3 separate regions of the Homo sapiens genome follow, and regions 1 and 2 are each linked to region 3. Evidence: fine-mapped expression QTL. A gene starts in region 3. Each other region holds a variant in brackets. All regions are shown on one strand. Distances are between the middles of the regions.

The links. PIP is the estimated chance that this variant, and not a neighbour inherited with it, causes the effect.
Region 1: its variant is fine-mapped to the expression of LINC03020 in whole blood (INTERVAL, PIP 0.98).
Region 2: its variant is fine-mapped to the expression of LINC03020 in whole blood (TOPMed, PIP 0.98).

What each region holds. Positions count from the first base shown.
Region 1 is chr8:70,198,267-70,206,266 of GRCh38, reverse strand. All of the region lies in intron 4 of NCOA2 (nuclear receptor coactivator 2), which reads left to right. Among named protein-coding and RNA genes, the nearest start is that of PRDM14, 130 kb to the right of the region's middle. The variant G/TTTTTTTTG (reference allele first, on the strand shown) is at 3,006.
Region 2 is chr8:70,038,693-70,050,123 of GRCh38, reverse strand. No RefSeq gene overlaps it. Among named protein-coding and RNA genes, the nearest start is that of PRDM14, 27 kb to the left of the region's middle. The variant C/G (reference allele first, on the strand shown) is at 6,727.
Region 3 is chr8:70,465,943-70,477,373 of GRCh38, reverse strand. It overlaps LINC03020 (long intergenic non-protein coding RNA 3020), which reads right to left and starts at 6,240. Exons shown (of 4, transcript NR_110653.1): 1 at 5,529-6,240.

The DNA of each region.
Region 1 (8,000 bases), 270 kb after region 3:
GTACACTCAGAAGTACCCACTTGCAGGTTCAAACACCAAGATAGAGAAATTCTTAAATATCTTAGTTTATAGTTCCTTATGACATTGTCACTAATGACTTAATGCAGAGTCATATTGTGACACTGCGGGCACATTTGTAGATAAGAGCCCTTGGGCTGAGCCCACTAGCTGCCAGTCCTTACCTTCTGTCCTACTCCCACCCCAGCTTTAGTGAAGAGTGCCCACATGTTTCCTGGCTGCTCAGCCCTCTCTTGTACTTGTCAGAGGGTGGGGGAGGTGAATCAGTATGCTACCTGCTCCTGCCACTTTGATTGCTGGGGCATAGTATCTGCCATTGTGCCCAGGGGAGTAATACTTGGCCATTCCTATACAAGAATCTGCTAAAGGTACTCCTTAAGATCCTCCTTGAGGGAGCCAGGTTGATCATTTGCCCCGACTTCGTGACTACTAGCGGAGTCTATGACAAAGTCCAAAAGAAGAACCCTCACCATAGAAGACTAGTACCCCTGTGATTTGTCTCCAGTCCTGCCATTCTCCCTTGCTCCAACCGACAACCTCCTTTGCACTTGCATCTCTTCCCCATGACATACACTGGCTCAGGCTCTCACGTTGTGGTTTCCTCCTTCTGGGTCTTCTGTTTGGGAATGCCTCTTTTTTTTTCCCCTCTCAGCTGGTTGACATCTGCTCACCTTTAGTAGGCCATCCTGATGGAGTATCACAGCTATTCTGCGTTTGTAGTGTATAGTGACAGGGAATCTGGGTGGATGATAGTAGAAGGTCCAGTGGCAAGGGGGCTTCACCAAGACCTCGGGTCTGACCAGTTTGGCCTACTACTGTATTCTTGTGGCTCATTTCATCAGTACGTATACCCAAAGCCCATTACCCTAGACTACTTATTATTGCTGACACATACTTCACATACTTGTGCTTTTTCACTTTGGTGTGATTATTTGTATTCTTTCCTCCCTATCCAAAATACTGCTTTTCCTGTTTCTGTCTATTCCCATTACATTCCTACTGTTCATTCTTCAAGGCCTATCTCAAACACTGCTTTTTTTTTCACAAAACACTTTCTAATCTCCAAACAAATATGAATTCATCTCCTTTGACATCTCTGGTACTGTCTGATCTTACTCTGTTTAGTGTTTGTTTAGTGTTTTAGGTACTTCACTTTCTCTTCACCCACTGAATGACAGATTTCTTGATGGCAGAGGTTGTATTATCTACCTAACCCTTGGACCTGCAGCACTTCTTTTTTTGAGACAAGGTCTTGCTCTGTCTTCCGGGCCAGAGTGCAATGGTACGATCTCCGCTCACTGCAACCTCTGCCTCCCGGGTTCAAGCGATTCTTGTGCCTCATCCTCCTGAGTAGCTGGGATTATAGGTGTGCACCACTACAGTCATGCACCACCATGCCTGGCTAATTTTTGTATTTTTAGTAGAGACAGGGTTTCGCCATGTTGCCCAGGCTGGTCTTGAACTCCTGAGCTCAGGTGATCTGCCCTCCTTGTCCTCCCTAAGTGCTGGGATTACAGGCGTGAGCCACCGCACCCAGCCACCTGCAGCGGTTTTGAGTATCATGTTTGTTCTTAGTTTATGTAAAATAAATATTTGTTGGATTTTTCTGATTCCTGGCCTTTATTCAGCCTTGTGTAATGGTTTTATATCAGGAGAAAATACTGCCCTAAATTTAAGAACATAACATTTGTATTATAGTAACTGAGTGAATACATTCCCATCCTTGCACAAGGATTACAGATTACAACCTATCTTGTGACAAATATTATTTACAATATTTTTGTTTGCCTCCTGATAGTGCATTAACATCTTTATAAAACAAGTGGTGGTGAACTGTTAACTCTCTTAGATTCTGATAAGCATAGCTGGAGCCCTGTTTGTTTTTGTAAGGATGAAGAATCCTCACAGCTTGTCGACTAGAATATATTTTGAAATCCTATTCGCCGGTCATGGTGGCTTATGCCTGTAATCCCAGCACTTTGGGAGGCTGAGGCAGGCGGATCACTTGAGGTCAGGAGTTCGAGACTATCCTGGCCAACATGGTGAAACCCCGTCTCTACTAAAAATACAAAAATTAGCCTGGCATGGTGGCACACGCCTGTAATCCCAGCTACTCAGGAGGCTGAGGCAGAAGAATCGCTTGAACCCGGGAAGCAGAGGTTGCGGTGAGCCAAGATTGCACCACTGCACTCATGGGTGATAGAGCGAGACCTCATCTTAAAAAAAAAAAAGAATCCTATGAAAAGAAGTATTTTATAATTTTTTATTAGGAACTTTAATTACCATGGAATATTTTCTCTAATGTTTTAAATAGACATATTGTTTTAGACTAGAATATATAATATAGAACGCACATTCACATTTTATGTTAGTGCTGCGCAGATATTAGATATATTGGTTTTGAAATAACTCATGTAAGAATTTGCCGAGTACATTTAAATTTCTGTGAGCTGATGTTTACATTTAATTCATTCTTTTAGTTTGAAGAATGATGCCAATTTTTGAGAAATGAATTAAATATTTGTGCTGTGGTAGGGAGAAGAGTTTAAACATAGAAATAAACAAAAGATATAAGAGCACAAATACCACTGTTTATTATTGTCATTCACTGGTTAGCTTAGGTTTAAAGTAGGTTTTTCTGTTTCTTTCTTTCTTATTTCTTTTTTTTTTCAGTTGAGGTCTTGCAATGTTGCCCAGGTTTGATTCAAACTTCTGAGTTCAAGTGATCCTCCCACCTCAGCCTCTTAAGTAGCTGGGATTATAGTAAAGTACATTTTTCATGGGTGTTTGTTTTGGGTTTGTTTTTTTAAAAACAAATCAATAAGAACGATCCTATTTTAAAAATCTGTTGTACTGGTAGAAGAAGGGAGAGGGAACTGTGACTAATTTTATGGACTTTAGACTTACGTATTTTCAGACTGATATGGATTATACAGTAATAAATTACACATGCAACTATTTCCTCTTTCTTTTTTCTTTTTTTTTTT[G/TTTTTTTTG]AGACAGAGTCTTGTTCTATCACCAGCCTGGAGTGCAGTGGTGCGATCTCGGCTCACTGCAACCTCTGCCTCCCAGGTTCAAGTGATTCTTCTGCGTCAGCCTCCTGATTAGCTGGGACTACAGGCACATGCCATCATGCCCAGCTAATTTTTATATTTTTAGTTGAGACGGGGTTTCACCGTGTTGGCCAGAATGGTCTCGATCTTTTGACCTCGTGATCCACCTGCCTCAGCCTCCCAAAGTGCTGGGATTACAGGCATGAGCCACCACTTGATCTCTTGACCTCGTGATCCGGCCACCTCAGCCTCCCAAAGTCCTGGGATTATAGGCATAAGCTACCGCGCCCAGCCCTTGCAACTATTTTCATTGGTCCTTCCAAGGAGACTTTTTTTTGGTTGGTGAATTTGTGGGTGGGGTAGTAAATAAGCACATAAAGTAAATTGACTCTCTTACCAATTTTTAGGTGTAAATTACAATATTGTTAACTATATGCACATTGTTGTACAGTGGATCTCTAGAATTTCATCTTGCATGAGTAAAACTCTGTTCCCAGTAAACAGCAACTCTGTTTCCCTGCCCCTGACAATCACCATTCTAGTTTCTAGTTCTGCTAGTTTGACTACTTCGGATACCTTATATGAATAAAACAAGGCAGTATTTGTCTTTTTGTGATTGGGGTTCTTTCACATGGCTTAATGTCCTCAAGGTTCATCCATTTTGTGGCATGTGACTGGATTTCCTTCTTTTTTTAAGCCTGAATAAGATTCTACTGTGTTATATACCACATTTTCTTTATTCATTTATCCATTGATGTACATATAGATTGCTTCCATATCTTGGCTGTTATGAATAAAATACTGCAATTAACATGGGGATGCAAATATCTCTTTGAGATCCTGTTTTCAATTCTTTTGGGTATATACCCAGAAGTGAGATTACTGGCTTATACATGGTAATTCTGCATTTAAATTTTCAGGGAACCTCCATAGTGTCTTCTATAGTGGATGCATCATTTTACAATTCCACCACCAGTGTGCAAGACTTTCCATTTTCCCATACTCTCACCAACACTTACTCTCTGGGGGTGGTTTTGATAGTGGCTGTCCTTAATAGGTGTGAGGTGATATCTCATTGTGGTTTTCATTTGCATTTTCCTGCTGAATAGTGATGTTGAACATCTTTTCCAAGGAGATATTTTGAAAAGAATAATTATCTAATACTATATTGCATCACAGAATGCCTTCTATAGTCAAGTATCATAATATTTATCACTGAATAATCTAGGGCACTAAACATGATCATAGGCCAAGAAAATGGGAGCGGGGAGATTCTAAGGTACAGGAAGGAGGATTCTTTGAGGCAGATTAGAAGTCAATAGGAGAATGAGAGAAAACCACCATGGCATTGACATCTCCTTTCTGGACATTTTGCCTCATTTCAGTCGTTTCTCATGTCCCCCTAAAGAGTATTTCTTGCGCTGAAGCTTTTTGCTACGTTAGACTTCCTATACAGGTTACAGGGAAAGAAGAAGTGTAATGGCTGTCCTTCTATCTGTAGTTTGGGCATGGGCAGAATAGAGGCACTCACTTCCAGTTCTTTCCTCCTCTTATTACTGCTGCTCACTCTGAAATATTTTAGTTCATTTCTTCTTACAAAATGTTCACCTTTTGTTAATTACTGAGTCATTTATCCCTGGTAATCAGTGTAGGAGCTTGTGTTTTTATCCTCTTATCATCCCCATCCCTGAGATTTGTAAGGTAATAACTCCGGGGCAACAGTAATAGTGTTCTTCACCTCAGCTTTATAGGTAAGAAATGGAGCCTCTTACAGCTTAGGTGTTGTCATGAGTGCAAAGTCTGCTAAAAAGTTGACCTGCAGTTCTGGACTTGGAGATTATGATTGCTAGTCCAGCTTTTACTCCAGAGGTGTGTTTATCAGCATGTCAGATTCTGGTTCATATTTTGTTAAGAGATTTTCTGTGAATGTGACTGTAGAGGATACTTCACAAAATTACAAGAATTGCAGTTCTGCTTGTAATACTTATTGATTTAAAGACTCTAAATACCAATTATCCTTTAACCTGAGAATTGATTTTAATTTGACCTTTTTTGTTGTGGTAAATATTCATAATATAAAATTTACCATCTTTAAATGTGCAGTTCAGTGGCATTAAGTAAATTCACTTTACTTTTTTTTTTTTTTTTTTTTTTTGAGACACAGTCTCACCCTGTTACCCAGGCTGGAGTGCAGTAGTGTAATCGTGGCTCACCGCAGCCCCTTGACTTCCTGGGCTCAAGTGATTCTCCCACCTCAGCCTCCCAAGTAGCTAGGACCACAGGTGTACAACACCACATTTGACTTTTTTGGTAGTGTTGAGTTCTCGCTATGTTGCACAGGTTGGCCTTGAACTCCTGAGCTGAAGCAGTCCTCCCACCTCGACCTCCCAAAGTGCTGGGATGATTACAGGCATGCACCACCACACCTGGCCTTACATTCACATTTTTGTGTAACCATCACTACTGTTCATCTTCTATGAATTTGACTATTATAGTTACCTTGTGTAAGTAGAATCATGTAATATTTGCCCTTCTGTGACTGGCTCATTTCACTTAGTGTAATGTCCTTAAGCTTTATCCATGTTGTAGCAATTATTGTTCCTTCAATTGTGTCACCTGACTAGGGATAGGTAGTGGCGAGTCAGAATTACACAATGATTTTGTCAGTCAGGAAACCCTTAATGAATGCCTTCTTCATGGAGCTGGAGTTGAGCAGTAGGAGAGACAGGCCACAGATCAGTAAATTACAGTGCAAAATCCATCCCTAGAGTAAGGCAGTAATGCTGTATGCCTTAGGAAGTGATCTTGCTTGGGCTTCATGGAAGGTGGTTGGTCTCTTGCCTTTCAGCTAGAAATGAATAGATAAACCAGGACCCATAATATTGAACTCCAATAATATTTGATGTTCATTCTAACAGAGGTACATACGTGTACCTTATAAATAAATATACATATTTTATGCAGTCACCCCTCTGAATCCATGGGGGATTGGTTCCAGGACCCCCATGGATACCAAAATCCTTGGATGCTTATGTCCCTGATATAAAGTGGTATAGTATTTGTGTATAACCTATGCACATCCTCCTGTTTACTTTAAATCATCTGTAGATTACTTATTATATAATATGTAAAACAATATAAATGCTATATACATAGTTGTTATAGTGTATTGTTTAGGGAATAATGACAAGGGGGGAAAAAGAAAAGCTTGTTCATGTTTGGTACAGACCATCCATCTTTTCCTGAATATTTTCAATCTGTGGTTGGTTGAATCCACCAATGCAGAACCCATGGATACAGAAGGCTGACTGTATACATTATATAGAGGTACGAAAAATCCTGATAGCGTGAGTATTAAAGATGTTTCTTTTAGCAAATTCTGGCCTAGTTGGCTGTCAATGGATGTAATTAGCCTACAGCTAACAGAGGAGTGAATAGGGAGATGGCAGGATGTGGCCTGGGACCAAGAAAGATCTGAGTTCTGCCTCCTTATGATGGTTTTCTTGTCACCATACTGTTTGCTCGTTCTTCTTCTCTTTATTGCCAAATTTCTTACAAAATGAAGGAAGTTACACTCCTGTTTACTGTTCAGCAGCTAAACTCTGGCCTGTGTGCCCCTCACTGCTCCCTGGACTGTCTGCAGCGACTCCCGTTGATCAGAGGTGGCAGCTCTTCTTCCCATCTGCCTGCCTAGCTTCTCTGGTAGCTGTCTCTGTTGACCATCCCTCTCTACTTTTTTTTTTTTTTTTTTTTGAGATGGAGTCTCACTCTGACAACCCAGGCTAGAGTGCAGTGGCGCAATCTTGGCTTTCTGCAACCTCCACCTCCTGGGTTCAAGCAATTCTCCTGCCTCAGCCTCCTGAGTAGCTGGGACTACAGGCACCCACCACCACACCCAGGTAATTTTTTTTGTATTTTTAGTAGAGACAAGGTTTCATCATGTTGGCCAGGCTGGCCTCGAACTCCTGACCTCAGGTGATCCTCCCACCTCAGCCTCCCAAAGTGCTGGAATTACAGGCATGAGCCACTGCACCTCACCCCTTTCTACTTTTGAGCTGTACCACATTCATCCTCACTCACTGGCTTTTTTTCCTCATCTAAACCTTGGCCCTTTCTTCTTCTCAAATAAAATTCGCTCTTTAATGAGTTTTAACTATTGCTTGTATTTGTGCTGACTGTCAAGGTAAATCTGCCCTTGACCTTTCCCTCATCTTTCATTGCACAGATACTCGGTGAGTCCCTCCCCACAGCCCCCGTCTTACAGTTTCATTGTCCGTCCAGATTGCCAGCTACCATTAGACATCCACAGGGGTGTTCCACAGGTGCCTTAAATTGATACTCTCAAACCAAACCCGTTTTCTCCTCTGCCTTCTGAAAAGACTGCCTCATCCTTTTTTCTGTGCTCTATCTCAGTCTGTGTAACCACCATGCGCTGATCACCTGTTTTGTCCTTACCGAGGCTAGAAACCTCAGTTCCAGCCACCTTCTCTTTTACCTCTTCCTTCCCCACAATCAGCCAATTTAGTCAGCTCTGTCAGTTCCTCACTGTATTCTGTGCTATATAACCCTTTTTTCCCATGTTTATTTTCAGCACTCTAATTTAAGACATCTTTTCTCACCTTAACTCATCTCTGCTTCTTTACCTTCTATAATCCATCCCCGCTGCTATCACCATTAACTTTCTAAAAATACATTGGCTGTGTAACTCCTGAGCCTCCAGTGAGTCTCCCTGCCTGCAGGACGAAGGAAAATGCCTTCCCATGGTATTCAAGGCCCTTTGCTGGCTGGTCCCATTGTACTTTCCAGGCTGTCTCCTGCTCTTATCTTTCTGGCCATCGTACTTCTAGGCAGACCTCCAGCCTTAATTACTCTTTAACTCATAACTGCACAGCTTGTGTGCCACTTTTAGATCAAATGTATACATCATTTTGGCTTGTA
Region 2 (11,431 bases), 430 kb after region 3:
GAGTTTACCACTTTACAGATGAGGAAACTGAGACTGAGAGAGATGAAAGAAGTGGGGCAAGCTGATTTGCCTCTAAGAGGCAAAGCCAGGTCTGCCCAGCTCCAGAGCCCAGCCTCCTAACTAGCCTCTATGCCTGGTTTATGGATCCTGTTAAGAATATAGCATTTTTTCTGGGCCAGGTGCAGTGGCTCATGCCTGTAATCCCAGCACTTGGGAGGCTGAAGCAGGTGGATCACCTGAGGTTAGGAGTTCGAGACCAGCCTGGCTAACATGGCAAAACCCCATCTCTACTAAAAATACAAAAATTAGCCAGGCATTATGGTGTACAACTGTAATCCCAGCTACTCGGGAGTCTTGAGGCAGGAGAATTGCTTGAACCCGGGAGACAGGTTGCGGTAAGCCGAGATGGTGCCACTGTACTCCAGCCTGGGTGACAGAGACTCCATCTCAAAAAAAGAAAAAAATAAAAAAAAAAAAGAAAATAGCATTTTTCTGGAGACTACCCATCCCATTCTTCCCTATATTAAGTTAAGCAATAACAGACTGAAATACCCACGTGGAAGATTTGAGACCAGAATAAGCAGGATAAAAGTGCTTTGAAGGCAGCCACAGCTGCTGAGGATCTGTCCCATCCCAGCTGTGTTTCTGCTGACTGCCTGGGGATCTGCTGCACCCTCCACCCATGGCCACAAATGGAGCAAATTCAATATGGAACAGATGCCCCTTCCAGAGGGAGGCTCCCAGCTCTAGCCCAGTCCTTTGAGAGAGAGATATAGTGCAGGTGGAAAAGCAGTGACAGATTCTACTCTAGGGAATTATTTGCTGCCTTGCTGAAGTCTGAGTAATTTATCCTAATGGGAATGTGCCCTGTTGTTTTAGGACTGATTTACTTCATGTTAATTAAGACAGAACAATGGTCTTTCGAAGACGTGGGGGCTCATTGTGTAATTAGGCAGCCTTTCCTTAACTGCTGGTTCAAAATGTATTACTCGAAACATGTTCTTACTGTTATGGGTTTAAACATTATTTTTAAATCAAATAGTAAAACAAGTCATCACAAACTGGTGTGATCCCAGTTTTTTCACTCACTGAATAATTCAAATTAACAACTTCATTCTTTGACCTAGAATAGCAGCAAAGGGAGGTAGGGTTATTTTTTCTTATTTTATTTTTTTTGCTATTTTCTAACAGTCATTCAAATGCATGCATGCCAGTAATTGAACAATCAAATAATAATACCGTATAACGGATAATATATCCTATACTAACTAGAAAATTTTGGGGACCATTTCATTTAATACCTGTTTACTCAAAGTTTTGGTCATATTGATAGGGTTACATAATTCAACTTTTAGTTTGGGAAATACAGTCATTCATAACATAACATCTTTCTATAGTAATACCCTGAAGCTCTTTTATGTTTATTTTTTTTAATGTATATTATTGGCCAGGTGCAGTGGCTTATGCCTGTCACCCCAGCACTTTGGGAGGCCGAGGCAGGAGGATCACTTGAACCTAGGAGTTTGAGACCAGTTTGGGCAACACTATAAGACCCTGTTTTAAAAATATATTTAAAATTTTTAAAAATAAAATGTATGTAATCTATTTCTAAAGCTAATTTAAACCAGTTTAAAATAATAATAAAAGCTGTAGACAGCCAGGCATGGTGGCTCATGCCTGTAATCCCAGCACTTTGGGAGGCCGAGGTGAGCAGATCACCTGAGGTTGGGAGTTCACCACCAGCCTGACCAACAGAGAAACCCGGTCTCTACTAAAAATACAAAATTAGCAGGGCGTGGTGGCCCGTGCCTGTAATCTCAGCTACTCGGGAGGCTGAGGCAGGAAAATCACTTGAACCCAGGAGGTGGGGGTTGTGGTGAGCCGAGATCACGCCATTGCACTCCAGCCTGAGCGACGAGCGAAACTCTGTCTCAAAAAAAAAAAAAAACAGTAGACTAGGACAGTCAAAGTAGAAGACAAAGCACCACGTAGAATGTAGAATGAGATTAAAACTACGCTAATACACTTATTCTGGCTGAACATTTTTAGATGCAGCATAAGGTATAACATAGAGAATGCAGATTTTGGAGTCAGGCAAACTAGTATTTGTCCCCCATTTCCTCATTGTATAATGTTGGAAAAATCATTTGATTTCTGAGGTTTAACATCACATCCATAATATTGAAGAACCATTGCTTTATTTGATTTATCCTCCCAGTCACTGCAGCTATTAATTAGGAGACACCATTATAATGAGGACTGCAGGCAGTATGGTGTACTTACTGGGAATAATGGATACCAGTGGAAAACAGTTTTCTTATTTTATTGTTGGAAATACAGAACTGTTTCTGGAGCTACAGATAGAATTTAGAGATCTCCTGAGGTAGTTTCTCTGCTTATATTTCTTTTCCCTACCTGAGTCTGTATCTGATAATTGTATCATCCTTCCACTCATTAGAATAAAAAAAAATGTATAAAGAGGGACATTTAAAACCCTGAAAAAATAACTAGGCTAAAAGTAAAGCGGCATCCCTGATATTGATGGTGCTCCTAATAAGCCCTCAGGATGTCCTTTCTGAATCTGGGGAAGTTGGCAGTTGCAGTGAACAAAGCTATCAGAGTAGATAGATGCTTGGGATCTCAATGGGCCTGCAGAAGACTCAGTGTTCTGGCCACACTGGCCACAAAGTTACAGCTCATTTGTACCCAGGCAAAGCACAGGGCAGGCTGGGGTTGGTAGGAGCTGCCATTCCAAGTATAATACAGGTAAAATCACAAATACTGTCCTAGACCATCTATTATTGGTGGATCTGATTTTGACATTATAGATTGCAGAATATTTTGCTCAGACATAGTTTTTAAGGGCGTTCAGAATGCTTTGTGAGGCCGGGCACGGTGGCTCATGCCTGTAATCCCAGCACTGTGGGAGGCGGAGGTGGGTGGATCACCTGAGGTCAGGAGTTCGAGACCAGTCCGGCCAACATGGTGAAAACCCATCTCTACTAAAAATACAAAAATTAGCTGGGTGTGGTGGTGGGCACCTGTAATCCCAGCTACTTGGGAGGTTGAGACAGGAGAATTGCTTCAACCCAGGAGGCGGAGGTTTCAGTGAGCCGAGGTCACACCACTGCACTCCAGCCTGGGTGACAAAGCAAGACTCCATCTCAAAAAAAAAAAAAAAAGTTTTATGACTCCAGGGGCAGTAACTGAATAACTGCAATGGACTCTTAAATTTATGAACCCTGCCCAAAGTTCAGGGGAACAGACTTGTACATTGAATTATTTCAATAGAAACATTGAGCTAGAATCTCATATCATAGAACTTTTTTGTTGTGGCCGAGCACCATGGCTCACGGCTGTAATCCCAGCACTTTGGGAGGCCGAGGCAGGCAGATCTTTTGATGTCAGGAGTTCAAGACCAGCCTGGCTAACATGGTGAAACCCAGTCTCTATTAAAAATACAAAAATTAGCCAGGCGTGGTGGCATGTGCCTGTAATCCCAGCTACTCGGGAGGCTGAGGCACAAGAATTGCTTGAACCGGGAGGCAGAGGTTGCAGTGAGCTGAGATCGTGCCACTGCATTCCATCCTGGGTGACAGAGTAAGACTCCATCTCAAAAAAAAAAAAAAAAAAAAAGAACTTTTTTGTTATTTGGCAGATATTAAAATAGAATTACCAAAATTATCTTGAAAGGAAAATAATGTTAAAAATTATATAAAACAGAGATAAATGTCTTCCTCATTGACATTCTCTTCATAAAGTATGAGAATCTCATATAGAAAATAATGGTTTTCTTTATTTTTTTTTTTTTGAGAGAGAGTTTCACTCTGTCACTCAGGCTGGAGTGCAGTGGCATGATCTTGGCTCACTGCAACCTCCACCCTCCGGGTCCAAATGATTCTCCTTCCTCAGCCTCTTGAGTAGCTGGGACTACAGGCGCCTGCCACCGTGCCAGGCTAATTTTTTGTATTTTTAGTAGAGATGGGGTTTCACCATCTTGGCCAGGCGGGTCTTGAACTCCTGACCTCGCGATCCACCCGCCTCGGCCTCCCAAAGTGCCTGGATTACAGGCGTGAGCCACCGCTCGCAGCCAGAAAACAATGGTTTTCTACATTATTCAAAGAGGTTACGTGTTCAAGAAATAAAAAGTACTTCCACTAGTTAATGCAAAAAATTTTCACCACATCACTTTGTTGGTGTAAAGGAGCTTAAATAGAATAAATTCTAGTATTTTGAGATGAGATATTTAGCCCTGATTACAACTAGGAGAGAGAATGTTTAGGGAGAAGATTGGTTCTATTTTTGCACATGATCTCAGGATATTCTTTTCACTGTTAAATTGTTTTTCATCTTAAATTATCTCAGAATTCTTATTTATTTATTTATTTATTTATTCTCAAACTCCTGACCTCAGGCGATCCACCTGCCTCTGCCTCCCAAAGTGCTGGGATTACAGGTGCGAGCCACTGCACCCGGCCAGAATTCTCTTCTCTTTTGAAAAATAAATTTTAGGCCGGGCACAGTGGCTCACGCCTGTAATCCCAGCACTTTGGGAGGCCGAGGCAGGTGGATCACGAGGTAAGGAGATCGAGACCATCCTGGCTAACACGGTGAAACCCCGTCTCTACTAAAAATACAAAAAATTAGCCGGGCATGGTGGCAGGCGCCTGTGGTCCCAGTTACCCAGGAGGCTGAGGCAGGAGAATGGCGTGAACCCGGGAGGCGGAGCTTGCAGTGAGCCGAGATCGAGCCACTGCACTCCAGCCTGGGCAACAGAGCTAGACTCCGTCTCAAAAAAAAAAAAAAATTATTGTTTATATTTGAGATGAGAATTCTTGATACATTTTTTGGTATATTAAAAAGTGAGATAAATTGTTTGTGCTTTAACATGTAAATTGCATCGTAGATTCATAAAATTCATCTTGGATTTATTTCTAGCACAGTACTTTCTATTGAAAGCAGTTTACTATCAAGAAAATCTATCAAAGGGGATGGAATCCCATTCTTCATTTTCATGAATTGTTTTAAAAAGTGTTCTTCTGGCCAGGGTCGGTGGCTCACACCTGTAATCCCAGCACTTTGGGAGGTCGAGGTGGGTGGATCACGAGGTCAGGAGATCGAGACCATCCTGGCCAACATGGTGAAACCTCGTCTCTGCTAAAAATACAAAAATTTGCTGGGTGTGACCGCACGTGACTGTAATCCCAGCTACTCGGGAGGCTGAGGCAGGAGAATCGCTTGAACCTGGGAGGCGGAGGCTGCAGTGAACCAAGATCGTGCCGCTGCACTCCAGCCTGGCAACAGAGCCAGACTCCGTCTGGAAAAAAAAACAAAACAAAAAACAATGCCGGGCGCGGTGGCTCACGCCTGTAATCCCAGCACTTTGGGAGGCCGAGGCAGGCGGATCACGAGGTCAGGAGATCGAGACCATCCTGGCTAACACGGTGAAACCCTGTCTCTACTAAAAATACAAAAAATTAGCCGGGCGTGGTGGCAGGCGCCTGTAGTCCCAGCTACTCGGGAGGCTGAGGCAGGAGAATGGCATGAACCCGGGAGGCGGAACTTGCAGTGAGCCGAGATCGCGCCACTGCACCCCAGCCTGGGCGACAGAGCGAGACTCCGTCTCAAACAAACAAACAAAAAACAAAAAACAAAACAAAACAAAAACAGTAGACCTCCATTTGTTTCTGTGTGGGGAAGGTAGGGGGTGGGGGAGGGGCAGGGGTTGAAACTGAATTTCGCTCACTCTGTCTCCCAGGCTGGAGTGCAGTGGCTCATGATCATGGCTCACTGTATCCTCAACCTCTTGGGCTCAGGTGATCCTCCCATCTCAGCCTTCTGAGTAGCTGGGACTACAAGCATGGGCCACCACGTCCAGCCAATTTTTTTTTTTTAATAGAGATGGAGTTGTCACTTTGTTGTCCAAGCTGGTCTCTAGCTCCTGGGCTCAAGCGATCTTCCCGCTTCCTGGGCTCAAGCGATCTTCCCACTTGGTCTTCCCAAAATGTTGGGATTACAGGTACAAGCCACTATGCTGGGCCCATTTGTGTTTTTTTTGGCATCTCTATATATGTATCAATTGTTTTTTTCAATTTTAGCATGTGTGCTGCTGAAGCAAGCACTTTTTTTTTTTTTTTTGAAACGGAGTCTGGCTCTGTCACCCAGGCTGGAGTGCAGTGGGGCGATCTCGGTTCACTGCAAGCTCCGCCTCCCAGGTTCACGCCATTCTCCTTCCTCAGCCTCCCTAGTAGCTGGGACTACAGGCGCCCACCACCACGCCCGGCTAATTTTTTTGTATTTTTAGTAGAGACGGGGTTTCACCGTGTTAGCCAGGATGGTCTCGATCTCCTGACCTCCTCATGATCCACCCGCCTCGGCCTCCCAAAGTGCTCGGATTACAGGCGTGAGCCACCGCGCCCGGTGCAAGCACAATTTTTTAAGTGTTAATAATGAAAATATTATGTAAGATTTTTCTTACCTAATATATTATTTTTTTAATTCTTGGCATTTGTGTTTTGTTTTGAGACATAGTCTCTTTCTGTCGCCCAGGCTAGAGTGCAGTGGCGCTATCTCTCTCATTGCAAACTCAGCCTTTCAGGCTCAAGCGATTCTCCTGCCTCAGCCTCCTGAGTAGCCGGACTCACAGGAGCACACCACCACGTCTGGCATTTTTGTATTTTTGGGGAAATGGGGTTTCACCATCTTGCCCAGGCTGGTCTTGAACTC[C/G]TGAGCTCGAGTGATCCGTCTGTCTCGATCTCCCAAAGTGCTGGGATTTCAGGGGTGAGCAACCGTGCCTGGCCTTTTTGTGTATTTATTTATTTTAAAGAGACAGAGACAGGGTCTCACTTGGTTGCCCAGGCTGGTGTGCAGTGGCCATTATAACTCACTCAAACTCCTGGGCTCAAGGTATCTTCCTGACTCAGTTTCCTGAATAGCTGGGGGTTGGGGGTGGGGTTCGCATTATTAACCAATGCACGTACTGAGATGCAGCCAGAGAATGCAGAGGGAAAACTGCAAAACAAAATCACTCATTTTATCCCCATTAAGCTTGCTTTGGGGTCAGTAGGATTTTTTTTCCTTTGGAAAAGTTTCCTCAACCTTACTGCTACAAGGCTGTGCAGACCTGACCTAGGGAAGAGCCCTCTAGGTGAATTCCACTCCCCCGGGTTATCTGATTTAAAGGTGCCAGAACCAAATTCTCTTAAATTTGATTTTGAATCTATCTTCCATTAAAACTGTGTACGGTGTCTTCCAAGGTTGCTGTTCCGGATTCTCCTTAGAGGGAACCGGCCGTCTCTCTTTCCCAGTTGTTAAATACTATACCAAATCCCTTCAGCCCTAAAACCCCCTCAAGGCAAGTCCAAGGTGGGTCTCTCTATTCCTGATGATAACAGGGGGGTCTGAAATCTTTCCTGTTGACTAGTAGCTTAGGTTATGGCTGGTGTGACATGTGGCTGGTGTGACATGGGATCCCAGTCTTGTGCACGTGCCCAAGGGGAGGACTGCAGGGCCTGGGAAGGCCAGTGCAAAGACAATGCTCCAATATAAGGCCCTTTAAGGCCCTCCAGGCTCTGGCTGCCTGGGGGTTTTGAGCCTGCAGACTCAAGTGCCCAGTAAGAGGAAGAAGACACTTGAACACTGTCAGCCAGGAACTTTTGCAATTGCCAATTTATGAATTGCAAAGGCACCTCCTGGTTCACCAGTTAGCTGGATACTTACATGCAATTGTTTTTTCAAGATGTGGCAAGATTTGAGAGGGAGAGAAAGTAAATACGAAGAAACAGATGTTTGTAAACTATTACTTGAATAACAAATACAAAATGACTCTCAAAAATAGAGATCTGTCTGTGAATTACAGTATATTAATCACAAAATGCTTAAAGGCAGCATAGGGGAAATTCTCTCTGAGAAACCTAAACTCACAACCCAAACAGGACAAACACTATGATTCCACTAATATGTGGTACCTGGAGTAGTCAAATTCACAGAAAGTAGAATGGTGGTCACTGGGCCTGCAGGGTGTCACTGTTAAATGGTTGTAGAGAATCAGGTTTGCAAGATGAAGAGTTTTGGAGCTGGATAATGGCTGTGGCTACACAACAATGTGAATTTACTTAATGCCACTGAATGTGAAGTAACTCAGGAATGGAAAATCAAATCTTGTATGTTCTCATTCATAAGTGGGAGCTAAGCTATGAGGATGCAAAGGGATAAGAATGACATTAATATAATGGATTTTGGGGACTGGGGGAGAAGGGTGGGAGGGGGGGTGAGAGATAAAAGACTACATTTTGGGTTCATTGTACACTGCTTGGGTGACAGGTGCACCAAAATTTCAGAAATCCCCACTAAAGAACTTACCCATGTAACCAAAAACCAGCTATTTCCCCAAAACTAGTGAAATTAAAAAAAAAAAAAAAAAAGGCCAGCCTCAGTGGCTCACACCTGTAATCCCAGCACTTTGGGGGGCCAAGGTGGAAGGATCATTTGAGACTAGGAGTTCGAGACTAGCCTGGGCAACATGTAAACCCCATCTCTACAAAATACAAAATAATTAGCCAGGTATGGTGGCGTGTGCCTGTAGTCCCAGCTACTTGGGAGGCTGAGATGGGAGGATCACTTGGACCCAGGAGGTCGAAGGTGCAGTGAGCCGTGACTGTACCACAGGGACACCAGCTTGGGTGACAGATGACAGAGTGAGACCCTGTCTCAAAAAAAAAGAAATTTAAAAAAAGTTTAGACAATAAATGTTACATCTATTTTACCACAATTTTAAAAAATCATTTTAAAATAATTTTTTTAAAATTAGACCAATGACAGATGCTACAAGTGGACAAACCATATGAATCCTGGGGCTCTAAAGGTACTGCCCCAATGGACAGCCTTCCCCCAGCTCTGAGAGGCTTTTCCCCTGCTGTCTTGTCTTTGTTCCTAGCTCTTCCTATCGGATCCCGGCACTGATGATAGTGTGAGGGCTGCACACTCCCCACTCCCAGGAGAAGCTTCACTTTTCAGAGTGTTTACTCCAGGCCCTCTCTCTAAGTGGCTACCTGTCAGTTTCCATTTCAACTCTACCTCTACTTGCAGGACTGCTGACCACCAACTGACATATTACCTGTATTGATTCTCTAAGAGCTGTCGAGGTGAAGGGAAAGACTATTCTAAGGCAACCCTGAGCTCTTAGCTGAGTGGGATCATAAAACGCCCCCATTAAAGGTTTCATTCAATAACAATCTTTGCAAAAGTAAATGGACATCAGTCTCCCACCCCCACAACTAATACAGAGGCCATTATCAATGGGCAGAGAGCACTGAACGGCGGCAGTATCAGTTTCCACATTTTCAAATGATTCCTTTAATGAAAAGCTGCATTCTTTTCAGGCCATAAAACACCAAGGAAAAGTCTATTCATTTAGCTATTGTACATATTAGCTTATTTATTTATGGCTAATGCTGCCATCAGCATTCCCTGGGTGTAGAGTTAACTCACTTAATGATTGGTTGATAAATTGCTAAAAAGCGGAGAGGTTGAAATTGGCTATCATGCAGGGTGATTTAAGTTTGTTTTGTCATTTCAAATACAAACTCACTGTCTTTATACTCTATTTTAAATGATCCATCTCACATAAGGTGTTTTATATTCGCATGCCTATTTGATCCAGAGTGCACAAAGATTGATTTTCAACCACGTGCTTAGGAAATAAGCATATTGTCATTATTTTACCAAAAGAGAGATAACATCTACTAGCTATTTGAAATAGATCTTCACCACCAAATTATGGACTCTTTTATTGCAAAACTCATCTTCTCATTCTTTCCCTCTCTTGCTCCCTTCCTTCCTCCCATCTTTCTTTCATTAAATAGTTACTAGTAGGATCATCTCAGCAGTTTTATGTCTTGCATAGCAGGGACTCGATGGTTGTTGACGCAATCTGCTTTGGGGAAAAAATAGTGCCTAAATGAGACAAGTCATGAATGGGTCTTGGAAAGCAATTAAACGCTACACCTTGGTGTTTTCTGAACATCAGGGTTCAGAACTTCATTTCCTATTTGTACAATTCTGAAGATACTGTACTTAAAAATGTCCACTTGTATTTACTTGATAATAGCTGATGTGGAAATGGTGGAAGATAAGAGTAATGAAATGTTGACAGCAAAATGTGTTCTTTCATTAAATTACCCCCTTTTCTTTGTTAATTGAGATATACATGTAAAAATCTGAAATAAACTACAAAGCGAGGCCGGGTGCATGGCTCATGCCTGTAATCCCAGCACTTTGGGAGGCCGAGGCGGGCGGATCAAAAGGTCAAGAGATCGAGACCATCCTGGCTAACATGGTGAAACCCTGTCTCTACTAAACATACAAAAAAAATTAGCCAGGCATGGTGGCAGGCACCTGTAGTCCCAGCTACTTGGGAGGCTGAGGCAGGAGAATGGCGTGAACCTGGGAGGTGGAGCTTGCAGTGAGCTGAGATCGCGCCACTGTACTCCAGCCTGGGTGACAGAGCGAGACTCCGTCTCAAAAAAAAAGAAACTACAAAATGAGGCCTAAAGTTCACTTGCTAGACCTTCAAAATTATGTTCTGCTGAAACAAATGGAGCAGAAGGAGGGCTGCCCATCAGCCCACAGCAGAATCACTAACTGCAGTTTACAAATCTGAGAGCCCTGCAAACCCTGGTCCCAAGGATACTCCAACTTCCATGTCCAGCAGGCGAGTCGGCTCCTGAAATATGTGCTGCCCTCTGATGTTCCTCCCCGCTCCTGGTTCCTGGGGTACATTTACAGGCTTCCTGCATTCAACCTGTAAATGTTTGTGCCCTGCACTCTTGTCACTGTTCTCTCTGTCCCTGCACAGTCTCCTGCATTGCCATAGCTTGTTTCGATTGCCATCTGTACACTGACAATTCCTACATTTTGATCTGTCTTTCTACATGGAATCTCTACTTGTGTGTCTCAGAGGCAACTGACTTTGACACATCTAAAACTAAACTCAAGATCTTTCCTACAAACCTGACAGTGTCTCCATCCCATCCCCAGGTCCCTATCTGAGGAATGGCACCACTATCTACTGCCCTAGCAAGCTGGTTGTCACACCTCACACCCAGTTCATGCAATTCATCTCAGAAGCCTAAGGCCCTCATCTCAACCCATCTGATAAAATAACTTTTATATCTGTTCTTGCCCCAATCCAGATCATTTTCTTCCCAGCTAGAGGCATCTTTTCAAAACACAATGTTATCACTCCTTTGCTTAAGCCCCCACCCCCTTTTCTTTTCTTTTCTTTCTTTCTTTCTTTTTTTTTTTTTTTTGATACAGGGTCTCTGTCATCCAGGCAGTGGCACACTCACGGCTCACTGCAGCCTTGACCTCCTGGGCTCAGGTGATCCTCCCACCTTAGCCTTCCTGATAGCTGGGACTACAGACACACACC
Region 3 (11,431 bases):
CCAGCTTGGTCACTGATGCCATGCCTGGATGAGACCACAGGCCCATGTGTAAAATGGGGGTAATGATAATAACTATGCAAGTGAGATGCTGCTATGCAAGTGAGATGAGATATGTAAAGCACCTGGTGCAAAATGAGAGCTCAGTAAATGGTAGATACTATTATTTCATGATCCTTAATACAGCTTATTATGTACATTTGAGAGATGTCTTAAAAGTACCTCTTAATGAGTTCCATTGCTTTGCTTAAAAGACTTATCTTCTTGTTTAAGGCAAGTTGATGGTTAAACAGATTTTGAATTTGGGTGAGGCGGCTCCATGTAAAGGCTGGCTTTAGTGCACCTCCTTGCTCCTAGTCCTGCCCACAGTGGGCACCCACTCCACTGGTTTCAAGATCCATCCATACAGGTTCTCCTTCTTTAGATGAGTTAAAAAAAAAATCTTTCTTTCCCTTACTTGTCAAGTGAAACAATGGGTGGGGTTGACTATCAGAAAACAAAAGCTAAAGCAGGTAAAGATGTTCTTGAAAGAAATGCTTCCTTGTTTCAAAGGAATTTTACTCTCTGGGATGAAGGCAAAAAAGAAATAATCTGAAAAAGAGCTGGATTTTCTAAAGAAGTAAAACTAATCGCTGGTTCCCTTCCTCTCTTCCATACTTAGAAGGGCCTAAAGGGGTGGTGGCTCTCCACTTTCAGAATCTGAGAGTGTCACTTGTTTGACCTCCTGAAGGACACGTTGTGGACATCACCAGTGCCTTTATGGCAGACAGGTTGGTTTGTGACATTGTGTTTACCAGCTTTTGGGAGAGAACCTTCTTGCTTTCAGGTATGTTTTAGGTGATTAGAGAGCAAGGCTACTACTTTTGCAACATACTAGATAAACAGCAGTTTCCATATTAAGGGGAAATCATATCATACCTGACCATCTTGCCTCCTTGGTTCCACTGGATTAGAAAACAAGCAGAGATAAACACAACTTTGGTGGAGTTGGTTGCACAGCAAGGAAAGGAATAACTAAGCCCTTTAAGATCAATGTAACTGACAGAGTGCATTCTGCAAAAAATAAACACAGCTCTAGGAGAGTTATTGTGAACAATGGTATCTGAAAATGATAGGTGAATAATTTTGATGCACAGATCTTTTTCCCAAGATTGGAAACAAAATCTTCTCCCCTTCTCTCCCATCATTTAACCAAACTTTTGGTCCTCTGATAAAAATCATGCTGTCAAAAATGACTGAACTAATTTGTGACTTTTGACCAAATCAATTTTGATGTAATACAAGATTAAATGAGTGGTTTCTTTTATCCCTCAACCTGAGGTAGAACAAATTGTACTGCTCACGGTGTCCTGCCACACAGGGCTGACTTGACATAAAGCTCAGTATTTTATCACAAGATTTGGAGAATAATTATTAGAGATCCACTTTGCGTGATGTTTATTGGGTTCTTAAAAGATAACTGACCATTTCTTATCACAGAACAGTAGTCTGACATGACATTTGGGATTATTTGAAGGTCTAGTTCAGGACTCTCAGGCCTTCTGTGAGTCTGCCCATTTTTGCTTTGAATTTATTAACTGGGATGACAAGAACCAAGATCTCCCCGCTCATGTTTCTTCCACTCAGTGATAAATTGGAGGGGGAAATCATGCAAGCAATCCTTACAGTGATTTGTACTCATAGCCATTCACACTTACAGCCCTTTGCCAATTACACCCATGTTGTAACTTCTGACACGTAAACAGGCAGTTTCTCACATGAACATATGTTGCTCTCCCCTTTTGAGAAAATGAATCCCAACCTTAACCACACTAGTGGGCTGTGATTAGTTCTAATCCCTAGGTTTTACAACAGGAAAATTGACTATCAGAGAACGAGGGAATGGCAAGTAATCACTCCTGAGTTCACTTTTTTTCTTTTCCAGAACGGCATCACATAACTGCCCCAAACTTTCCTTCAATATACTCGTCAAAATGTCCTCAAGGAAATCATCCTGAAATCCATAAAATGAATAAGCCTGCCCATTGGAGTTGTTTTGCTTCAGTGTAATAGTTGGCAGGAAGATGTGGTCAAACAGACTGCACCATATTAAATGGATTTTATGTTTATTGACTACTTGTAGCACTACTTAATTGATTTATGTGTGTGTGTTAGAAAGCTTTATGCTATGAAACTAAAATATATCATTTATAGTTTATTAAGTCCTGCATTTAGTAAAAGTTGGCATAAGGCCCTAGGTCAGGAACTTTACCCTTCTGTTACAGCAGTGTTTCTGGGAGAAAATAATAGTTGATACACTTTATTTCCACGTATAGTAAATTGCCTAGGAATATAATCCACATGGAAAGGTGGCTTGTTTTTGTTTTTCTTAGGGTCTTGCCCTGTTGTCCAAGCTGGAGTATAGTGGCGTGATCTTGGCTCACTGCAACCTTCGCCTCCTGGGTTCAAGCCATCCTCTTGCCTGAGCCTCTAGAATAGCTGGGAATACAGTCACTCATCACCATGCCCAAATAAATAATTTTTTTTTGTATTTTTTGTTGATACTGGGTTTTGTCATATTGCTCAGGTTAGTCTTAAACTCCTGAGCTCAAGCAATCCTCCCACCTCAGCCTCCCAAAGTGCTGGAATTACAGGTGTGAGCCACTGTGTCTGGCTTGTGTTTCTCAAGTGCTACTCACTGTCATATTACCACTGTGTTTGAATGAGCATTCTTTTGTGATTCTGAGTTGAAATAATAAATTAGAGAAAATGGTAAACGAAGTATAACTTAGTACCTAAGGTTTTTATTCTACTAGTTTTTAGAACTGGCAGGAGAGGCCTAAGACAAAATAAAAAAGATATTATGATAATGCTAAGATCTTGCAAACTGTAATATAATAATGCTCAGATTTTGAAAATTATATTAAATATATATATATATACATATGTACTATGTATGAAAATCAGGCCGAGCGCAGTGGCTTATGCCTGTAATCCCAGCCCTTTGGGAAGCCAAGGCGGGCAGATCACTTGAGGTCTGGAGTTCGAGACCAGCCTGGCCAACATGGCGAAAACCTGTTTCTACTAAAAATACAAAAAAAAAAAAATTAGCTGGGTGTGGTGGCACATGCCTGTACTCCCAGCTACAGGAAGCTGAGGCAGGAAAATGGCTTGAACCCAGGAGACAGAGGTTGCAGTGAGCCGAGATCGTGCCACTCTGCACTGCAGGCTAGGCAAAAGAGCGAGACTCTGTCTTAAAAAAAAAAACAAAAACAAAAACAAAAGATTAATTAAAATTATAGTAAGTTTTAATATAATTACCACTGCTGCATGTTGGTACTCATAGATGGATAACCAACATTAGGAACCTGAGCCTGGCTGGGTGTGGTGGCTCATACCTGTAATCCCAACACTTTGAGAGGCTGAGGTGAGAGGATTGCTTGCAGCCAGGAGTCTGAGACCAACCTGGGCCACACAGTAAGACACCACACCTCTACAAAAAAATTAAAAAATTAGTTGGGCATGGTGGCACATGCACATAGACCCAGCTACTCAGGAGGCTGAGGTGGGAGGATCGCTTCAGCCCAGAAGCTCAAGGCTACAGTGAGCTGTGATCACACCACTCACTCTACCCTGGGTGACAGAGTGAGACCCTGTCTCAAAAAAAAGAACAAACAAAAAGCAAAACCAAAACACAAAAACCTCCCTGAACCTGGTCTTCAGTCACCAAGGTGCTACATAAAGGGTACCAATAATACTTAGAGTAATCAAAATCATAGAGACAGAAAGTAGAATGATGGTCGTCTGGGGCTGGGGGGAGAAGGGAATGGGGAGTTAGTGTTTAATGGATGTACAGTTTCAGTTTTGCAATGTTAAAAAAAAACTTTAGACAATTTAACAGAGTTTAATTCAGCAAAGAACAATTCAAGAACCATGCAGACTCCCCGACCTCCTTGAATAAGTTAAGAGCAACTCTGGCACTGCCTCGCAGTCAGAGAGGATTTTTCACAGAAAAATGCAAGTGACATACAGAAAACACACGTGAGGTACAGAAACAGCCTGATTGGTTACAGCTGGGTGTTGAACACATTCGATCAGTTGGCTACCTGTGATTGGCCAAAACTGGATGATTGGCACAAGAGTAGGTTACAGTCTGTTTACACCTCCAGTCAGGTTACAGTTCACTGTGTATGGAGAAACATTTAGACCAAACTTAAAATATGTAAGGAGGCAGCTTTAGGCAAAACTTAATTTAACAATTGCCCCCTTTTGGTCAACCTCTCAGTTTTGATTGGCCAAAACTTTAGACATTGATGTCACTCTGTCACCATTGTCAGTGTACTTATTTGGTCTCAAATCTCAGTGGGAAATAGCAAAACAGTGAGTTTTTAAATGTGAGAACCAGGACTTCAGGTTTGTTTTTTTTTTGTTTTGTTTTGTTTTTTTTGGTAAGGGTTAGAACAGAAGGGACCTCTTTATGCTGGAATCTCCTGTTTTCAGGTGAGAAAAAAAAACTGGTCTGTTTTTGTTGTAACCAAGAAAATGCTGAATCAGGAAAGTAGTAATCTAAAAATGGCAGCAAAGCTTTGCAGCTTCCTTAGTTTCATTTTGATTATGTCTCATTTAGCATGAGTGACTCCATTTTGATTTGGTCTGGTCTGTTGGGGCCTAGTGCAGAAAGAGGTCTGATCTGATTTGGCCTAGGTCCAAAACAATGGCCTCTCATAATTTTAACAGCAAGATGAAAAGAATTACAGAAGTGGGTGGCGGTGCTGGTTGCACAACATTTTAAGTGTATTTAATACCTCTGAACTGTATACTTAAAAGTGATTAGGATGGTAAATTTTATGTTATGTGTATTTTACCACAATTTAAAAAGTAAACCCAGTAGCAGCGGCTCCTGCCTATAATCCCAGCAACTTCAGGCGCTGAGACAGGAGAATTACTTGAGCCCAGAAGTTCGAGATTGCAGTGAGCTATGATCACACCACTGTACTCCAGCCTGGGTGACAGAGCCAGACCCCAGTTCACAAAAAATAAATAATTAAAAATTAAAAAAAAAAAAGAGGTGCCATTACCTCTAACTGTGGCGTCTCTTGAGCGTGATTTTGAGAGGAAGCCAGTGAGACCAAGAACCCACCAATTCCGGACACAATTTCAGGCCTCACTCTAGCCAGAGTTGCCGGGCTCTTGGGTATGGGCAGGTCCTGTTTTTCCTGCTTCTGCAGCACCAGGGCAATCTACTTGATATGGGAAAAGCTCCCTTGTCCCCCTCGCAGGGTGTGTGATGAGGTGTGGCTCGATTCTTCAGTGCCCTGCTGCTCAGACCTCTAGGGGAGCATACAGGCGGGCAGGCTGTGGGGCTCCGATCGCACAGCAGTGTCTAGGGGTGAATATTTACAGCTCCTGAAGCCCCAGTGGGCGGGCGTGTGTTACAGGATGCTCTTTTAGGTTGCCATCTATAGGCGGTTTGTGTTAGCTCAATTACACCCCCTTTCTTATCACAAGGACAGAAGGATTTCTGTATCCTGGGGTTTCTTGCCCTGGCTTACCTGAAGAATCGGATTACACGTGGGCTTGGAGAATGAGTGCAAGGTTTTATTGAGTAGAAGTAGCTCTCAGCAGATGGGGGAGCCAGAAGGGAGATGGTTTTCCCCTGGAGTCGGGCCCCTTGGCGGCCCAGGCTCTTCTCTGACTGCCCCGTCAAACTCCGCATCATTCTGCTGGTGCATGGCCTGCCGGTGGTGTGTCGGTGCCTGTCGTTGTGTGCTCTTCTGCTGGCATGCTCCTCTCAACGTCCTCTCGAGGACCAGCCACTTGCGTCTTCTTCTGCTAATGTGCTCCTCTCCATGTCTGGCTGGCTGTGTGTCTGCCCACTAGGGTCTTGGGAGGTTTTGTTTTGTTGTTGTTGTTGTTGTTGTTGTTGTTTTTGAAGGAGTCTCTGTCGCCAGGCTAGAGTGCAGTGGCGCAATCTCTGCTTACCGCAACCTCCACCTCCCGGATTGAAGCGATTCTCCTACCTCAGCCTCCCGAGCAGCTGGGACTACAGGCGCGCACGCCATCACGCCCAGCTAATTTTTGTATTTTCAGTAGAGTCAGGGTTTCGCCATGTTAGCAAGGCTGGTCTCGACTTCTTGACCTCGTGATCTGCCCGCCTCGGCCTCCCAAAGTGCTGGGATTACAGGCATGAGCCACCGTGCCCGCAGTCTTGGGTTTTCGTAGGTTCAGGATCGGCGTATGGCGGGCCAGGGAGGTCTTAGAAAATGCAACATTTGAGCGGGAAAGCAGGAATGGGGTTCGTCGGGGAGGAGCCTTAGCCAGGGACCCGCCTTTCTCTACCCAGCACTTCCCTTCCTCCATTCCGCATCATTTAAAGGGACCACGCTTTTCCCTTCCCAGCACTCCATATCATACTGACCTCACTCCTCCAGTCCTGTGAGCAGGACCCAACAAATAAGTAGTATGAGAAATAAAGCTTAGCATCTCTATTTGAAAACACAGGAAAAATTGGGGGCAAAAGTTGTGTTCCATATTGGAATTTATTTGAATTGTCACATCCAGTGTCACTTCTCTTTTGATATATGTCAAGAGCAATAACTATGAAATATTACATATAATTGTTTCCATTCTAAGCAATTGAACCAATGTTCAGCTAATAGCATTAGTGAAAGAGAACACTGCCTGAGCAATGTAAAATAGCGGCTGATATAAACATTACTAGTATTTGGCTTTGAAATATGCTTCTTATAAAGACTTAGATTTACACATGGCAGATTTGATCTCAAAAATTCCAGCAAGACTAGGTGCCATGGTGGCTCATGCCTGTTATCCCGGTGCTTTAGGAGGCTGAAGTAGGAAGATCACTTGAGGTCAGGAGTTCAAGACCAGCCCTGGTAACGTAGCAAGACCCCATCTCTACCAAAAAAATTCAAACAAAATAAAATAGAAGCGTAACTCAAGAGAATTGGGAGGCGGTCTTGCCTCGTTATCCTGGCGTTTACTTCCCACCCCTCTGCCTACTGGCTGCTGGCTGGCAAAGATTGCTAGTGCTCCTAATGGATGCAACTCACAAGGTCAAACTTTTGCCTCCCAATCTTTCCTGACTCAGAGACTTTCATTTTGTGTTTTGTTTGGGATTGATTTAAAGTGCTTCTCTCGCTAATGTGTAAGTTTCATGTAAAAATCAGTGTAAAAATAGAAAACTGAAAGGTCAAATTAAGTATTGTGAATAATGCAAGTGCTGTTAAAATTAAAAGCAAGATTTGCTGGAAGTGATGTGCCCTAGATTGATAGTAGATGGAATCTATTTGTATACCTCGCAGATTATTATGTGTGAGTGTATTGTTCATTTGTCGACCATCATAGACTGGCTTCCTTCTTCTACTTAACCTGTTTTCATTTAGTTTCTTTTTTTTGAGACGGAGTCCCTCTGTCGCCCAGGCTGGAGTGCAGTGGCATGATCTTAGCTCACTGCAACCTCCACCTCCTGGGTTCAAGCGATTCTCCTGCCTCAGCCTCCCGAATAGCTGGGACTACAGGCACGTGGCACCACGCCCGGCTAATTTTTTGTATTTTTAGTAGAGATGGGGTTTCACCGTGTTAGCCAATATGGTCTCGATCTCCTGATCTCGTGATCCGCCCACCTCGGCCTCCCAAAGCGCTGGGATTACAGGGGCGTACCACCACACCTGGCTAATTTTTTGTATTTTTAGTAGAGATGGGGTTTCACCATGTTAGCCAGGATGGTCTCGATCTCTTGACCTTGTGATCCGCCCACCTCGGCCTCCCAAAGTGCTTGGATTACAGGCGTGAGCCACTGTGCTCCACCTATTTAGTTTCCTTATGGCAGGTCTTGGTGGTATTATGGAGCCAGACAGACCAGACTTCAAACCCCAGTAGCAATGCCACTTACAAGCTGCGGGAGCTTAGGAACTTGGCTTATTGTCAGTTTTGACCCTTACTTGTGCCACCTCAAAATGGCATTAATCACACCTCCTTGATAAAACTGTTACAGGATTAGTGATTCCATGTGTATTAATAAGAGCACATTATCTGTTCCATCTTCTTTTATCAATTTTGCAATAACTAATACAGCAACATAAATATTGTGATTATTTTCTTTGGCAGTAAGTTTTGTACTGATAAAGTTAAATAGAATTATTTTATTGGATTTGGGGAGTAAAGAAAAGCTTTTAAAGGGAGAGATTTTAAAAAAACAGCTTTTAAACTAAGCACAAGTAGTTATTTAAGTCTTGCATAGTTATTTCCTCCATTTTGAGTATGATTCATCCTTCTTGCTTAATCATGTGTGGGTTTGAATTTCTTTCTGGAGTAGCTTCTTTATATAGACTACTTTAATAATACTGCTTGTTGTAAACCTACAGGATGCATTTACCTCTGGGAAGTTATTTAGGTCGCAGCTACACATTCAAAACGCTTCGATAATGGTGACCAAACTGATGCTGAATCATCATCAGTTGAGTGAATTTCTTGTGCCTGCAGTACCGTCCCTCATCCTTTAAGACTGGGTCTTGTGTCCACTTCTCTATGAAGCTTTCCTTCGTTCTCTAGAACCTTCTCTGAAAGGTCCAATCCAGTCAATGATTGCTCAGCCCTCAATTCCTATAATATATATTTCAACCCATCAATGTAGCTCTTAACTATATACTTTCACGTTAGTCTCCATTTTAGGTGGTTTCTGCTTTATTTATTTATTTAATTATTTATTTTTATTTTTTTAGACAGAGTCTTGCTCTTGTTGCCCAGGCTGGAGTGCAATGGCACAATCTCAGCTCACTGCAACCTCCACCTCCTGGGTTCAAGTGATTCTCCTGCCTCCGCCTCCTGAGTAGCTGGGATTATGGGCGCCTGCCATCATGCCTGGCTAATTTCTGTATTTTTAGTAGAGACGGGGTTTCACCATGTTGATCAGGCTGGTCTCGAACTCTTGACCTCGTGATCTGCCCGCCTTGGCCTCCCAAAGTGCTGGGATTACAGGCATGAGCCACCGCGCCCGGCCGGGTTTTTTTTGTTTGTTTGTTTTTTGTTTTTTTTTTTAGCTTTGAATAGATTATAAACTTCTCCAGAGCAGATACCATGAATGAGAGAGGTGAGAGTGTGATCCCGATGTAGGGCTATTGTGTTTTTGCTTTTTCTTAGTGCCTCCCACATAATTTGACACATGAAGAGAATTCAACATATTTCTTATGTGACTAACCACAAGCATTCATAAAAGGGAAGTTTTTGTGAAGTGGCTAGGCCTTTCTGGTCAACTCTGGTCTTTTAAATTTTTCGGTAATGTGGGAGGTAAATACTTTTAAGAACACAGGAAATTACCACGACACAGAATATTTGGTGATTTGTGAGGTGAATCAAGATGGAAAAGAAAACTTATCCTAATAACACAGACAGTGGGTGTGCACTCAGATTGCTTTCATGGTACATGAGGATGGCACATCTAACCACAGTCATGCTGCAAGCCAACAGGCCTACCATGTCTGGGTCACCTGCCGGAAATTATCATCGCAGCTGAAAAGACAAATCAGGTAGTTGATTGACTGGATCTAATTCAACTGTCTTCTAATATTATTTAGATTCTACTATTCTTTAGGTAAATTGTCCAGGAAATGTTATATGCTGATTAATTGTGCTTTCAGGAATGTACATGTGTCTATGATAATTTTTTTTTTTGAGACAGAATCTTGCTCTGTCACTCACACTGAAATGCAGTAGCATGATCTTGGCTCACTGCAACTTCCATCTCCCGGGTTCAAGCAATTCTCCTGCCTCAGCCTCCAGAGTAGCTGGGATTATAGGCTCCTGCCACCACATGTGGCTACTTTTTTTGTTTCATTTTTAGTAGAGACGGAGTTTCACCATGTTGGCCAGGCTAGTCTCCAACTCCTTACCTCAAACAATCAACCTGCCTCTGCCTCCCAAAGTGCTGGGATTACAGGCATGAGCCACTGCGCCCAGCCAACTATGATAATTTTGCAATCCCAGAGCAATATGAGAGAATGATACAAATCTAGAGAACCACAGTCCTGTATTAGTAAACACTGAGTCATTTTTTTAGTAAAAGGTATTTATTGAGCACATATTATGTGCCAAATCAATTTAGGTGCTAGGGACACATCAAGGCACAAGACAAACAAAAAATTCCTTCTGTCATGAAGATAGCATGCTGGTAGCTGAGAGAGATAACAAACTATAAACAGAAGTATTGTGATATAAATTCAGGTAGTGAAAAGTTCCGTGAAAAAAATACAGCAAATGAAGGATACTGAGAATGACAAGGGGCAGGTGACCTAACTTATAAAACATGGAAAGGGAAGGTCCCTCTGAAGAGGCAACATTGAACAGAGACCTGAGACATATGATGCGACAAGGCAAGAAGCTTCCAGGTAGAGGATGGAGTAGTAGAATAGCCCTGAGACACAAGCTAGCTTCATACCATACACATAAAGAATATCGAGATGCCCAGCATGGCTGGATTCAGGAGAGAGACAGGGAGAGTGGTAGTTGGGATCCAGTTCATGTAGGGTCTTGTAGTTCGAATTGTCTTCTGAATATTTTGGAAAGCTTTTGGAGGCTTCAGAGTATAGAAATAACATGATTCAGGCTACATTTTTAAAACATCACTCTGGCATCTGTGTAGGGAAAAGATCCTTTGGAAGACAAGATTGGAAGAAGGGAGGCCAGTCAGAGGCTATAACTATAGTCCAGGCAAGTGATGACAACAGCCTCCACCAACATGGAAATCATAGAAATGGTGAAAAGTGGTTGGATTCAGAATATATAGTGCTGGCGGTTCTTGCTGATGGATTGGCTGAAGGATTTGAGAGAAAAAAAAGACTCTGATCTTTCTCATCAAGAGATAAAAAATATAAGGCCGGGCACAGTGGCTCACGCCTGTAATCCCTGCACTTTGGGAAGTCGAGGTAGGCAGATCACCTAAGGTCAGGAGTTCAAGACCAGCCTGGCCAACATGGTGAAACCCCATCTCTATTAAAAATACAAAAAATGGGGACTGGCCTAGCCTCCCAGCCTACATCTTTCTCCTGTGCTGGTTGCTTCCTGCCCTCAAACATTGGACTCCAAATTCTTCTGTTTTGGAACTTGTGCTGGCTTTCCTTGCTCCTCAGCCTGCAGCTGGCCTATTGTGGGATCTTGAGATCATTTAAAGAAGATATCAAAAGAGGAACTGAAAAGTATTTTGACGGAGTCGCTTCCAAGATTGCCGAATAGGAAGAGCTCTGGTCTACAGCTCCCAGCGAGATCAACGCAGAAGACGGGTGATTTCTGCATTTCCAACTGAGGTACCTGGTTCATCTTATTGGGACTGGTTGGACAGTGGGTGCAGCCCACGGAGGGCAAGTTGAAGCAGGGCAGGGCGTTGCCTCACCCGGGAAGCACAAGGGGTCAGGGAATTTCCCTTTCCTAGCCAAGGGAAGCT